3 separate regions of the Homo sapiens genome follow, and all the other regions are reported to be linked to region 2. Evidence: microRNA targets listed by miRTarBase, many of them from high-throughput screens and not tested one by one. Region 2 holds a microRNA gene; each other region holds the end of a gene's coding sequence.
The links. The annotated mature microRNA hsa-miR-181a-5p reads AACAUUCAACGCUGUCGGUGAGU and lies in region 2 at 2,518-2,540, opposite strand. An mRNA with a match to its seed (bases 2 to 7 or 8) in the 3' UTR can be bound and repressed. Matches are read on the target gene's strand: a 7mer-m8 pairs with bases 2 to 8, a 7mer-A1 pairs with bases 2 to 7 and ends in A, and an 8mer does both.

Region 1: the mRNA of EN2 is a reported target of hsa-miR-181a-5p. Seed matches in the 3' UTR shown: 7mer-m8 at 2,250-2,256.
Region 3: the mRNA of CFI is a reported target of hsa-miR-181a-5p. The part of its 3' UTR that is shown has no 7-base or 8-base seed match.

What each region holds. Positions count from the first base shown.
Region 1 is chr7:155,462,462-155,466,461 of GRCh38, forward strand. It overlaps EN2 (engrailed homeobox 2), which reads left to right. Exons shown (of 2, transcript NM_001427.4): 2 at 1-2,370. The coding sequence ends at 226. Among named protein-coding and RNA genes, the nearest start is that of EN2, 6.3 kb to the left of the region's middle.
Region 2 is chr1:198,856,591-198,860,741 of GRCh38, forward strand. It overlaps MIR181A1 (microRNA 181a-1), which reads right to left and starts at 2,563; the gene lies at 2,454-2,563. All of the region lies in intron 2 of MIR181A1HG (MIR181A1 host gene), which reads right to left. MIR181B1 (microRNA 181b-1) reads right to left here and starts at 2,392; the gene lies at 2,283-2,392.
Region 3 is chr4:109,737,467-109,741,466 of GRCh38, forward strand. It overlaps CFI (complement factor I), which reads right to left. Exons shown (of 13, transcript NM_000204.5): 13 at 3,229-3,644. The coding sequence ends at 3,427. Among named protein-coding and RNA genes, the nearest start is that of PLA2G12A, 9.4 kb to the left of the region's middle.

The DNA of each region.
Region 1 (4,000 bases), not on the chromosome of region 2:
CAAGGCCGAGTTCCAGACCAACAGGTACCTGACGGAGCAGCGGCGCCAGAGCCTGGCGCAGGAGCTGAGCCTCAACGAGTCACAGATCAAGATTTGGTTCCAGAACAAGCGCGCCAAGATCAAGAAGGCCACGGGCAACAAGAACACGCTGGCCGTGCACCTCATGGCACAGGGCTTGTACAACCACTCCACCACAGCCAAGGAGGGCAAGTCGGACAGCGAGTAGGGCGGGGGGCATGGAGGCCAGGTCTCAGTCCGCGCTAAACAATGCAATAATTTAAAATCATAAAGGGCCAGTGTATAAAGATTATACCAGCATTAATAGTGAAAATATTGTGTATTAGCTAAGGTTCTGAAATATTCTATGTATATATCATTTACAGGTGGTATAAAATCCAAAATATCTGACTATAAAATATTTTTTTGAGTTTTTTGTGTTTATGAGATTATGCTAATTTTATGGGTTTTTTTCTTTTTTGCGAAGGGGGCTGCTTAGGGTTTCACCTTTTTTTAATCCCCTAAGCTCCATTATATGACATTGGACACTTTTTTATTATTCCAAAAGAAGAAAAAATTAAAACAACTTGCTGAAGTCCAAAGATTTTTTATTGCTGCATTTCACACAACTGTGAACCGAATAAATAGCTCCTATTTGGTCTATGACTTCTGCCACTTTGTTTGTGTTGGCTTGGTGAGGACAGCAGGAGGGGCCCACACCTCAAGCCTGGACCAGCCACCTCAAGGCCTTGGGGAGCTTAGGGGACCTGGTGGGAGAGAGGGGACTTCCAGGGTCCTTGGGCCAGTTCTGGGATTTGGCCCTGGGAAGCAGCCCAGCGTACCCCAGGCCTGCTCTGGGAAGTCGGCTCCATGCTCACCAGCAGCCGCCCAGGCCCGCAGCCTCACCCGGCTCCCTCTCCTCACCCTCCTGCACCTAACTCCCTCCTCCTTCTCCTTTTTCCTCCTCTTCCTCCTTCCTCCTTCCTCCTGCTCCTCCTTTCTTCTTCTTTTTCTTCTCCTCCTCCTCCTTCCTTCCTCCTCCTCCTTCTCTTTCCTCCTCCTCCTCACCAAGGGCCCAACCGTGTGCATACATCGTCTGCGTCTGTGGTCTGTGTCGCTGTCCCCAGTCCCACCGCAGTCCTGCCGCAGGCCTAACCCTCCTGCCCTGGGCACTGCCTCCATGCAGAAGCGCTTCGAGGTTCTGGGGCTAAAGGCCTGGGGTGTGTGGCCTAAAGCCCAAGAGCGGTGGGGCGACCCTCCTTTTGGCTTGGCCCCAGGAATTTCCTGTGACTCCACCAGCCATCATGGGTGCCAGCCAGGGTCCCAGAAATGAGGCCATGGCTCACTGTTTCTGGGCGGGCAGAAGGCTCTGTAGAGGGAGATGGCATCATCTATCTTCCTTTCCTTTTTCTTTTCTTCCCTATTTTTTTCTTTTTTTCCTTTATTTTTTTCTTTTCTTGGAGTGGCTGCTTCTGCTATAGAGAACATTCTTCCAAGATAAATATGTGTGTTTACACATATGTCTGCATGCATGTGAACACACACACACACACACACACACCAGGCGTGTTTGAGTCCACAGTTCTGAAACATGTGGCTACCTTGTCTTTCAAAAGAACTCAGAATCCTCCAGGATCTAGAAGAAGGAAGAAAGTGTGTAAATAATCATTTCTTATCATCACTTTTTGTCTTTTCTTGTTTTTTAAAATATACATTTTATTTTTGAAGGTGTGGTACAGTGTAAATTAAATATATTCAATATATTTCCCACCAAGTACCTATATATGTATATAAACAAACACATTATCTATATATAACGCCACACTGTCTTCTGTTTAGTGTATGGGGAAAGACCAATCCAACTGTCCATCTGTGGCTGGGACAGCCCAGGGGGTGTGCCCACGGCTGACCCAGGGGTGTGCACACGGCTGAGCTGGGAGTCCCGCTGGTCTCCCTGAGGACTGAGGGTGAACTTCGCTCTTTGCCTTAAACCTCTTTATTTCATTGCAGTAATAGTTTTACGTTGTACATAATAGTGTAAACCTTTTTAAAAAGGAAAGTATAAAAACAAAAGTTGTAATTTAAAAGTCTGAATAACCATCTGCTGCTTAGGAAACTCAATGAAATGACATGCCTTTTTAGCAGGAAGCAAAGTTGGTTTCTGTTTTTTGTTTTCTTTGTTGTTTTAGTTTATAAAACATGTGCATTTTACAGTTCCAGTATCAAATATTTATAATCTTATGAGAAATGAATGAATGTTTCTATTTACAACTGTGCTTATCAAAATTGTGAACACCCCCACCCCCGCATTTTTGTGTGTTGAAATTCTTGAAGGTTACATTAAATAAAACAAAATCTCTTTATTATAAAATACTGAAGGTCCCAGGTGGAATGATGAGTTTTCTAAGCATGTCTGAGTCCAGAGGAACTGCCTGGGCATCCTCCCCAGTACTCAGGTGCTCATGGCCTTCGCCCCGCCTGGGAGCAGGTGCCAGGTGCCTTTGTAGCGAGAGGTGATTATTATTTTTTTTTAAATAAGACAGTTTGGATATGTCACATGTGAGCACAGAATAACCAAAAGAAGTACACATTTTGTTACCAGGAGGAAGTGTTCAAAACTACGGTGCTATTCCAGTGACTACATTTTTTTAAATTTTGCGAAGTTCAACAGGTCTCCCTCCGGCTGGGTGCTCACTGGCCCTGCCACCCGTGCTGGACCGAGGCGCTTTCCCCTGGGGACAGGAACTTTTTACTCCACTGAGACAAAGAGACTCTCCTTTTCAAAGTGTCATTTTTGTTTACCTTTTGTTGTTTCCCCCCCAAAACAAAAGACTTTGTACAACTTCCTAAGCAGGATTGGGGGAGGGATCAGCTTCGCCTGTGCTGACCGCGCCTCTGGATTCCGCTCATCAGGAAGTGTTTGGGGTCTTTGAGCGAGTGATCTACGCGTTGAATTGCTGTTTTTCCAAACTTTCATGGCTTAAAAATTTTTTTTCTTCTCCCTGTAAAAGAAACTCAGAGACTGGTGATCTGTTACCGAAGACGACTTTTTAGGCGTTTTCTGTTTCCCCAGGCAGCTGGGCCGTTGGCGTTCCCAGGCGGAAGCGGGGCCTCTGGGCTGGGCCTCTGCCCTGCCAGGAAGCGGTCTGGGGGCTGCCCCTCGGGATTTTCAGAACCCTGGAAGGAGAGAGCTGGGGTCTCACCGCGGAGACTCCCGAGTTCTCGTTGCCTGGGCCCGAGCTGCGCCCCAGGGTCATCGCTGATGGCGCGAGACCACGCATTCCCCGCGAACCCCGACTTCTGAACAGTTCAGAAAGTTCGTAGATTAAAAACCAAACAAAAAATACTGGCACAACTTCTATTGCCGTATTGGCCTCTCTCTTATTTTAATAAAAATACGGTAACATGAAGCGATCATTTTTTTAAAAATCTGTTTTCAAAGTATAACACTGAAAAGGGGCAAGGCACAGCTTTGTAAGGTAATGAGTTCCCCGTCCTCAGAGGTGTTCAAGCAGACGCTAGGCTTACAGTGGCATGGAGAGTGTTCTTTCTCTTTGGAACTGGATGAGTCCTCAGACCCTTGAAACGCTGAGTTTTTTTTTTTTTTTTTACTCCTATGTTTATTACATTTTAATCCAACAGCATATAATCTAAGCTGCTCCCTCATGGAGAGCCGCGGCTGTGCCACCTGCCTGCTTTCGCCATGGAGACCGGAGTCAGGCCTGCAGGGAAGTCGGTGCGCCTTTCCCAAGTCCTCTGCCCGCTGGTTCCTCTCGGGCCTCCCGGGCTCTGCGTGCCGCGGATCTGGACCCGGACTGCAGACACCGCCCCACGACTGGGCCCCCGGCCAGACTGTTACCCCACAGGAGGAGGGTTCCCTAAGTGTGCAGAAGAGGAAAGCTCATTTATAAAGTCCTTGCTCCTTCGAGCTGAACGACCCCCGCGCCCGAGGCCTAGCTGTGTCCCCGCCGGGCCCAGGCTGAGCTTACTCCACACTGCTCCA
Region 2 (4,151 bases):
GTTTAGAAAAGGAGAGGAAGCAAGGTCCAGGAACATGAAATGAATTGAGATTTATGGCTTTGGTTTCCAAGTAGATCAAGAGTGTTATCCCTTGGGAAAAAGATGATACGTTATCTGTAGTCATGGATGGGCTTTGGTCTGTGAGAAGAGCAGAAGACAGATATGTAGCTTTGGGATGTGTAAGCTGGAGATAAAGACTTGGGTATCTGCAGCATCTGAGCAGATGTAAACATCATTCACGTGCCTGAGATTCCTTCAAAGATTGTGAGACAAGAGAAGAGAAAAAAAGCCATAAAGTTAAGAATGGGTCTCAGAAGGATACTGGCATTGGGAGTTCAAGCAGATGAAGAGCTTCTTAAAAATAAATAAATAAATAGGACATCACTGTAATAAAGAGAGAAATCCAAATGAGAGTAGGATCACAAAAGTGAATGGGGACTGGAGTTTAGGAAGAAGTGGTCAGCTGTGTCAGGCATCAAGGGGAGTTCGAGTAGGACAACTGGCAGAAAAGTTTGATTTGTATTTGGCAATATGGAGCTCACTGGTGATTTGGGGAAAAGCAGTGTCATTAGAATGATGTTATGCACAAGTGGGAGAGAGAAATGGTAGAAGATGCCAAATTACATATAGTTGAGGTGAAATGGGAAGTAAACAAATATAGACAGTGCTGCAGGCTACTATGTACTATTTCTAAAATCTTAGCTTTTAAAAAGAAGAAAAGAAGTGGGGTAAGTAACTTGAGGATAAAGCAAGTATAGAGAAGTTTTTCTCAAATTTCTTTTGTTTTCTATTTGAGAAGAGAGAAAACTGAACCTTGTTACATGTGAAATGGAGCCAGATGGTGAGAGAGGAGGGGGATATCACAGGGGAAGAGATGTCCCAAGCAAGGCAGGAGGCTCACGTGAGACAACTCAGGGCAGAATCCTACGCATTCATAGGCTATAAACAAGGAAGTGGAGGGAATAATCACATGGACTCAAGCTTCTCAATGAAAAACAGAAGTCAGTTCATCTGTTGAGAGTGGAATCGTGGAAAGGAGCAGTTGAGGAAAGAGGTAAACATTTAGGCTAAACATGAGGGAGTGGAGTAGAAGAAATGCTGGGTCAGAGTTGAGGGACTGAGGCACTTGGAGGCCCCTGAGTATGTGTATTAATGTGTCCATATGATGATGTGATTTTATTTTTCAGCAACACTGATATTGAAAGGACAGTTGCCTTGGAGATAAGAGAATGAGAAACTAGAATGGTAAGAAGTGATAGACAGAGTGGGATATTAGATATCGAATGTGGTAAAATATTTTAAGGTTATGATGAGGTCAAGAGCCGGGTCCCAGCAATGGGTTTCTGTAATGGGAGTTAAAGGCAAATGGGATTTAAAAGATCAAGGAAAAGAAAGGATAATTTATTTGACCATTAAAAAAAAATGAACATTGAAGCCATCCAGGTACTCCAAACATAGACACTTGAGAAAGCATTTTATTTTGCTATATAATTATTATCATTACAAATGGTAAACTTAAAACTGCTGTGATCAAATTTAATGACAGATGTCCTATATAAAAATGCAGAGGCAAACCACTTAAGAAAAACCATGATATGCATAGGCTTTTACTTGCAAAGTCAGATGAGTAAACATGAGGCAATTAATGGGCCATGACTGTAAGTCTAACCACGCAGTTCATGCACATAGAAAGTGGGTAAAGTTTTAAAGTGGAAATTGAATTGGGAAAATCAATCTACTATATGACTGTCATGAGTGTTCTGATAGTTATATAGTTATGTATATATTATTTTCTTCGTATTTAGCATGTTACATAGCAAGAGGCAGAATTATATGAGCAAATCCTCACCCAGAGAAGCAGAAAGCTAAAATTATCTGGTGTTTCTATCCCACTTTGACCAGAACATCTAACAAAAGTTGTAAAGAACACATATTTGTAAGTGTGTTATTGTCAATGGCATGGGTGCTGAGGTCCTACTTTATGTCTTTTTTTCACTCACACTACAACAGTAGGAAGGTGAGCTAACCTAGATGATGATACTGTACGTTTGATGGACAAAATAGTTTTGCCTTTTCTAAAACATGCTCTGTTTATAGCATACAAAAGATAGAGAAGCATTATTCTTGTTTAAACCAGAGTCTTTTTCATTGAAATCTCATCACATGATATAAATTGAATAAATAAACCAGAAGATGCTGACGAATTGGAAAACTTAAAGAACAATAGTACTATTTTGAACACATCTTTCAAAGATGGAATATCTGTTGATTGTGACAGCAAAAAGCGGGGCCACAGTTGCATTCATTGTTCAGTGAGCTTGTCCACACAGTTCAACCCACCGACAGCAATGAATGTTGATTGTGACCTTTTAAAAAATAATCTCTGCACAGGGAAGAGAAAGTCCTGGTGTGTCCACCTTTGGTTTCCTGTCTTCAGCGAATTCTGAGCACCATGGAGTAGATGATGGTTAGCCATAGGGTACAATCAACGGTCGATGGTTTTGATTTTAATTCCAAACTCACCGACAGCGTTGAATGTTCACTGAAGCAACCTCAAAACTCAGAATTCTACTCACTTTACAGTATCTGTAAGTATCTGAAGGGGATGGGAGACAGAAACAACAGTACCTTTAGTCATATATTTTATGCATTTTTATGCCATTTCAAAAGACTACAAAAGAAGACAAATAAGAAGCATGATTCTTCCAACAAAGAGTTTGGCAAACCTCCACATCACATTGTATGAGAGAAAAGGATCGGTTTCATTAAGCAAAAACATGGCCGATATTGGGCTAGTTCCAGAGATGGAATTATCTCACTGTTAAAGACAGGGACAATTTGTTATTCAAAGTACTTTGTGGTATAAAATCCAAACAATATCTTATAATTTAAATATTGTTACGCTTATAGTAAGCAAGCATTATGTATATAGCTTATACAGAAATTAAACAGAATTACCTTAGATTTCCTCAAATTGGCATTGATGATATCATTTATATTTACATTATATATTTACTATATTTTATTCTAAAATAAGGTTTTAAAATTAGTATAACTTCCTAAGAACAATCTTATTTAGAAAATGCTGAACAAATTATAAGTGAAGAAACCAGCTCAATACATTTTTCTTAGTTTATGGCACAAAGAGTTCATGAATACAGTGAAAGGTAAATACAATCTATGTATGCTACAAAACCGTTCATTTCCTATTATTTTAAATAACATCTAACATCTAACATCTCTTTATGGGTAGATGGGTGAGGGATTCTTTTCATAGTCTTATTTTCTAAGACTGTTTTATCATTAATGCTTATTTTAAAATTATTATGAACTCTACTGAATTTATTTTTAGAGCCATTTTCAATAATTTTCTACCATCAATTAAAACAAAAGTCACCTTGGATGTATCTAAACCAGAATAGAAAGTCATTATTTCACACATTTAAGTTGCATCTAATATGGTTATAGAGTAATTATCTGTAGGAGGGACAACCCACAATAATTTGGAATGCTACTTTGAAGGTGATAATGGTCTATTCAAGTCAAGGCAATTACTCTCGAAATGTTAGTGAAATATGTATCCCAAATTTTTACACATTCTTACATTTCAGTCACTTAGAATTATTTTAAAGCCAATAATTGTTTAACCTTTTAGACAAACTATTTACATGAAAACTTCAACAGATTTTTTTTGAGAGAAACAGGGACTAGAGATCAACTGGAAGTAAATTTTAAAGTGACAAATAGGCACAGAATATGAAACAGTGATGTATCTGAATTTTGCATTGTTTAATTCTTTTGAAAGAAGCAAATTTCTCCCACAGAATAAAACCCTAGAAGAATGCTTTATCAGTAGGCATTTCTGTGTTGCTGCTGGAAAGAATATTATCATGAGACTGAGGATTCATTTGTTTGCATTATCAATTACGACTGAAAGCATATCACTCCTGTTCTGTTGCCTGCCTATTGTGGTATTAGTGTCAGGTCAATATACAACTGTTTTCAATCATGCCTATTCATCTCTTGCTACATCTGCTAACGTTTGTATAATAGGGATGTTGTGATAAAAGACTCCATGCTCTGTATTTTCCCTTAACACAAAATGCATTTGGCCTACCAGTAAGCAAAGCTCTAGGTCAGTTACAAATAAT
Region 3 (4,000 bases), not on the chromosome of region 2:
CAAGGTGCAGCCGCATAATTTATTTTCCCATTTCTCTTGTAAGACAGAGAGCTCTGAAACCAGGGTTAAATATAAGACGATGGCAGAGCTCCACATCCAATGAGTTGTGTCCCTGGCCACCTTCAGGCGAGCTCACAGAAGCAGCAATGTCCAGTGCCCAGGCTCTGCAGTACAAGCTGTACGTGGAGACTGGGACCCATGCTAGTGGCCATGGTAGTCTCTGATGGAGCAGTCCTGCAGTGTGGTCTGTGAGCGTTATTTCCAGATGTGTAGACTCCAATTCTCTGGCTCTTTTGGAAATTCTGTGAACTGCATAATATCTTTGAATAAATCTATTTTTTCATTAAACCAGTTAGATTGGCTTCTGTAGTCTGGAATTAGGAGCGCTGAGACAGACCTCTAAACTAGGAGAAGCTTGGAGTCAGGTCATCTCACTCCTGCTGTTCCTGGTCTCTGTCACATAGAGTCGCTTCAGAGGGCTGACTTTCACCCTTCAAGGCTTGACCCTGGTCTACTTTTCTGTGAAGCTGCCAGATGCTAGGTCACTGTGCAGACTGGCTTGGCCCTTTTGGGGGCCCCCTTCCTAGATTGGCTGAGGATGCCCTATATGCTGGGTTTCCCACCTTGTAGCACTGGAGTACTTTTCTTTTTTTTTTTTTTTTTTTTAAGACGAGGTCTTGATCTGTCACCCAGGCTGGAGTGCAGTGCTGCAATCACAGCTCACTGCATCCTCAACCTCCTGGGCTCAAATGATCCTCCCACCTCAGCCTTCCAAGTAGCAGGGGCTGCAGATGTGCACCACCACTCCCAGCTTTTTTTGTGTGTGATAGAGATGGGGTCTTGCTATGTTGCCCAGGCTGGTCTCAAACTTCTGACCTCAAATGATCCACCAACTTTGGTCTCCCAAAGTGCTGAGATTACAGGTATGATCCACTGCGCCCAGCCACTTTTCTCTTTTTATCTCATACACAGACATATTCTAAGGTGCTGCGTTGCTCCCGGATTGCTGAGTCAGGACAAGGTGGTTTTCAAATATGTCCATAAATTCTTTGATACACCTCCTCCCTGCCGCCATCAAGAGATGGGTTATTTCCTTTCCTTTGAGCCTGGGCAGGTCTTTGTGATGCTAAGGGACTTCCAAAGCTGGGTTAGAGAAGGCCATGCAGGTTCTGCAGTTTCTCTTGGGAGGCTCATCGGCTGCTATGTAGGAAGTCTGGTGCCCCCGGCCCTGCCATGTTAAGAGCCCATGGGGAGAGTGCAGAGAGACATATCTGAGAAGCCCCAGCTGTCTAAGTCCGCCCAGCCCAGGCACCAAACACATGAGTGAATAAGCCTTCGTGATAACTCTGGTCCAATCCTGTCTGACGGCAACAGCATGAGAGACTGGAAGGGGAACTTCCCAGCAATAAATAACCAAATACTTTCCTGAATTTAATGGATGAAAAATCTGGGCAGCATGGGAGGGAGGAGTGGTGAGTTATTGTTTAATAGATATGAAGTTTCAATTTGGGGAGATGAAAATTTTCTGCAGATGGATGGTGATAATGATTGTACAACAATGGGCATGTATTTAATGTCACTCAACTTTACACTTACAAATAGTTAAAATTGTTACTTTTATGTTATACATATTTTACCACAATTTTTAAAAGAAAATCTGGGCAGTAACTGATTTTGGAATATATGTAAAAATGGGTATTTATATTATTAAATCAGTAGGGATCTATCCAAGACTGGCCCTAAATAAAATAATAAAGGGAATATTTATGTGAAACATATATGTCTGTCTTCAGGATAAAGATAGCTGTGCTTAAAAAAAAAAAAAAGAGTAGCTAATGTTTATTCACTGAGCAGCCTCTATGAGGCAAGTGGTAGGGATGTAGCCAGAAGGAAGACAAATGAGGTCTCTCTTGTCATGTGTCTTATGTTGTAGTTGGAGGAGACAGTGTTGAGAAGAGGTAGACAACCCAATCAAAACAGAATACACTGGGGGAAGAAAAGTACTATGCTGAGATTAAAGTAGGTGGTGTGACAGAGGGAGACTGGGCACCTACAATAGCCTTGGGGTCGGGTGGGGGTGCTATTTTCTGTAGGTTAAGAAAGTGCAACTGTTGAGTTTGGGTTGACCACTTTTCTTTTGAAATGTTACTAGATATTCACATGGCAATGGTATATACTAGTGTTCAGTGGCATATACTAATCTGAGGTTCTAGGAAAGGTCAGAGCTGAAGATCCAGATTTGTGAGTCACCGGACTGTAGGCAGGATTTAAAACGTAGTCTAGATGAGATTACCAGGGAAAGGCAAAGTGAGAGAAGCAACCAGAAGGAAGAGGCTGAGAACAGCAGTGAGGGAGGAGTGTGATGCCCTGAGGGGCTAATGCTGCTGCGATGAGAACAGAAGTGACTGTGAGGTCTGACACCATGGAGGTAGGTGGTTGTATTGAATTATCTGTGGATAGGTTTAGAGAGAGGGTCAAGGAATGCTTGTGAAATGGGGGAGCAAAGGCTAATTTTTCAAGAAATGTTAATACTTAAAGAAGCAGGGGCCTGGTGTGGTGGCTCACGCATGTTATCCCAGCACTTTGGGAGGCCAAGGTGGGAGGATCCCTTGAGCCTAGGAGTTCAAGACCAGCCTGGGCATCAAAGCAAGATGCCTCTCTACAAAAATTTAAAATTAGCTAGGCATGGTAGTGTGCACCTGTAATCCCAGCTACTCGGGAGACTGGGGTGGCATGATTGCTTGAGCCCAGGAGTTCAAGGCTGCAGTGAGCTATGATGGCACTTCTGCAGTCCATCCAGGGCAACAGAGGGAGACTTTGCCTCAAAAAAAGAAAGAGAGAAAGAGAAGAAAGAAAAGAGAAAAAGAAAGAAAGAGAGAGAAAGAGAGAAAGAAAGAAGGAAAGAGAGAAAAGATGAGAAAGAAATAAAGAGGAAGCAGGGAAATGGGACAAGAGCTGTGAAGTCAGTTATTACCCTGTGACAGGTACTATGCCAAACATTTATGTAAGTATGTAGTTTCATTTTCACAGAATTCCAGTTTCCATTTTATAGGTGGAAAAGGAGACACAAAGAAGACAATAAATTGTCCAGGGCATAGTAGGTGATAGAGCTGGGATTTGAACCCAACCTTATGTAAGTCCAACATTATTCAATTAGTTGTAACTTCAGTCAATAAATCACTCCCGCATTGAGATAATTTAATAAAATTTTCTGATAAATAAAACTTGTATGCTTCACCAAAATATTTATTTGAGAATTATACAACAAAATTCCAATATGGCATAAACTCTGTGGAGACCTTTAAAAATATCCAGTGAGATTTGCTTCATTTTTCCCCCCTAGAGAATTATTAATTATACCGTTTTATTTCCATTAAATGGAACTCTTGAGAGAAAAAGAATAGAATGAAGAGAGAGATCACAATTTTATACATTGTACTGAGAAATAAAAGGCCTTCCTACATGGTAGCTAATCCAGTCAAAATAATTGGCCACTTTGGTGTAAACACCTGGGAACTCTGGTTTTCCACAGTTTTCCCCCCAACTCACAACACCCCAGACATAAGTCACATTGTTGGCATCCATACAGACTAAGGGGCCTCCAGAGTCCCCTTTACAGGCATCGATGGAACCATCATATGTACCTAAGAAAGAAATGTGAAAGAGAAAATCACACATTTCCTTCCATTTTTCAAGGCTGCCATGCCTCCTCCATGGCATTTAACAACTTTGGCTTTTTTACAGTTTCCTGACAGCAATAGCATGGGCTCTCCTTAGAGTCCCTGGCTGGGCTTGCAGAGTTGCAGAGATGCAGCTTGGAAAATTCTTTACGAGTCTTCTATTTATTCCCCCAATTCAGCATGTTCTTCCTGTGTTCTCTACTTTATACGACTGAGTACTGAGATGAGATTGCAACCTGAAAGTTGCATCAAATGCTGAGTAGGAAAATGATGGGACTGCCTAGTGCTTACTGAGTGCTAAATATTTATTAGTCATTCAT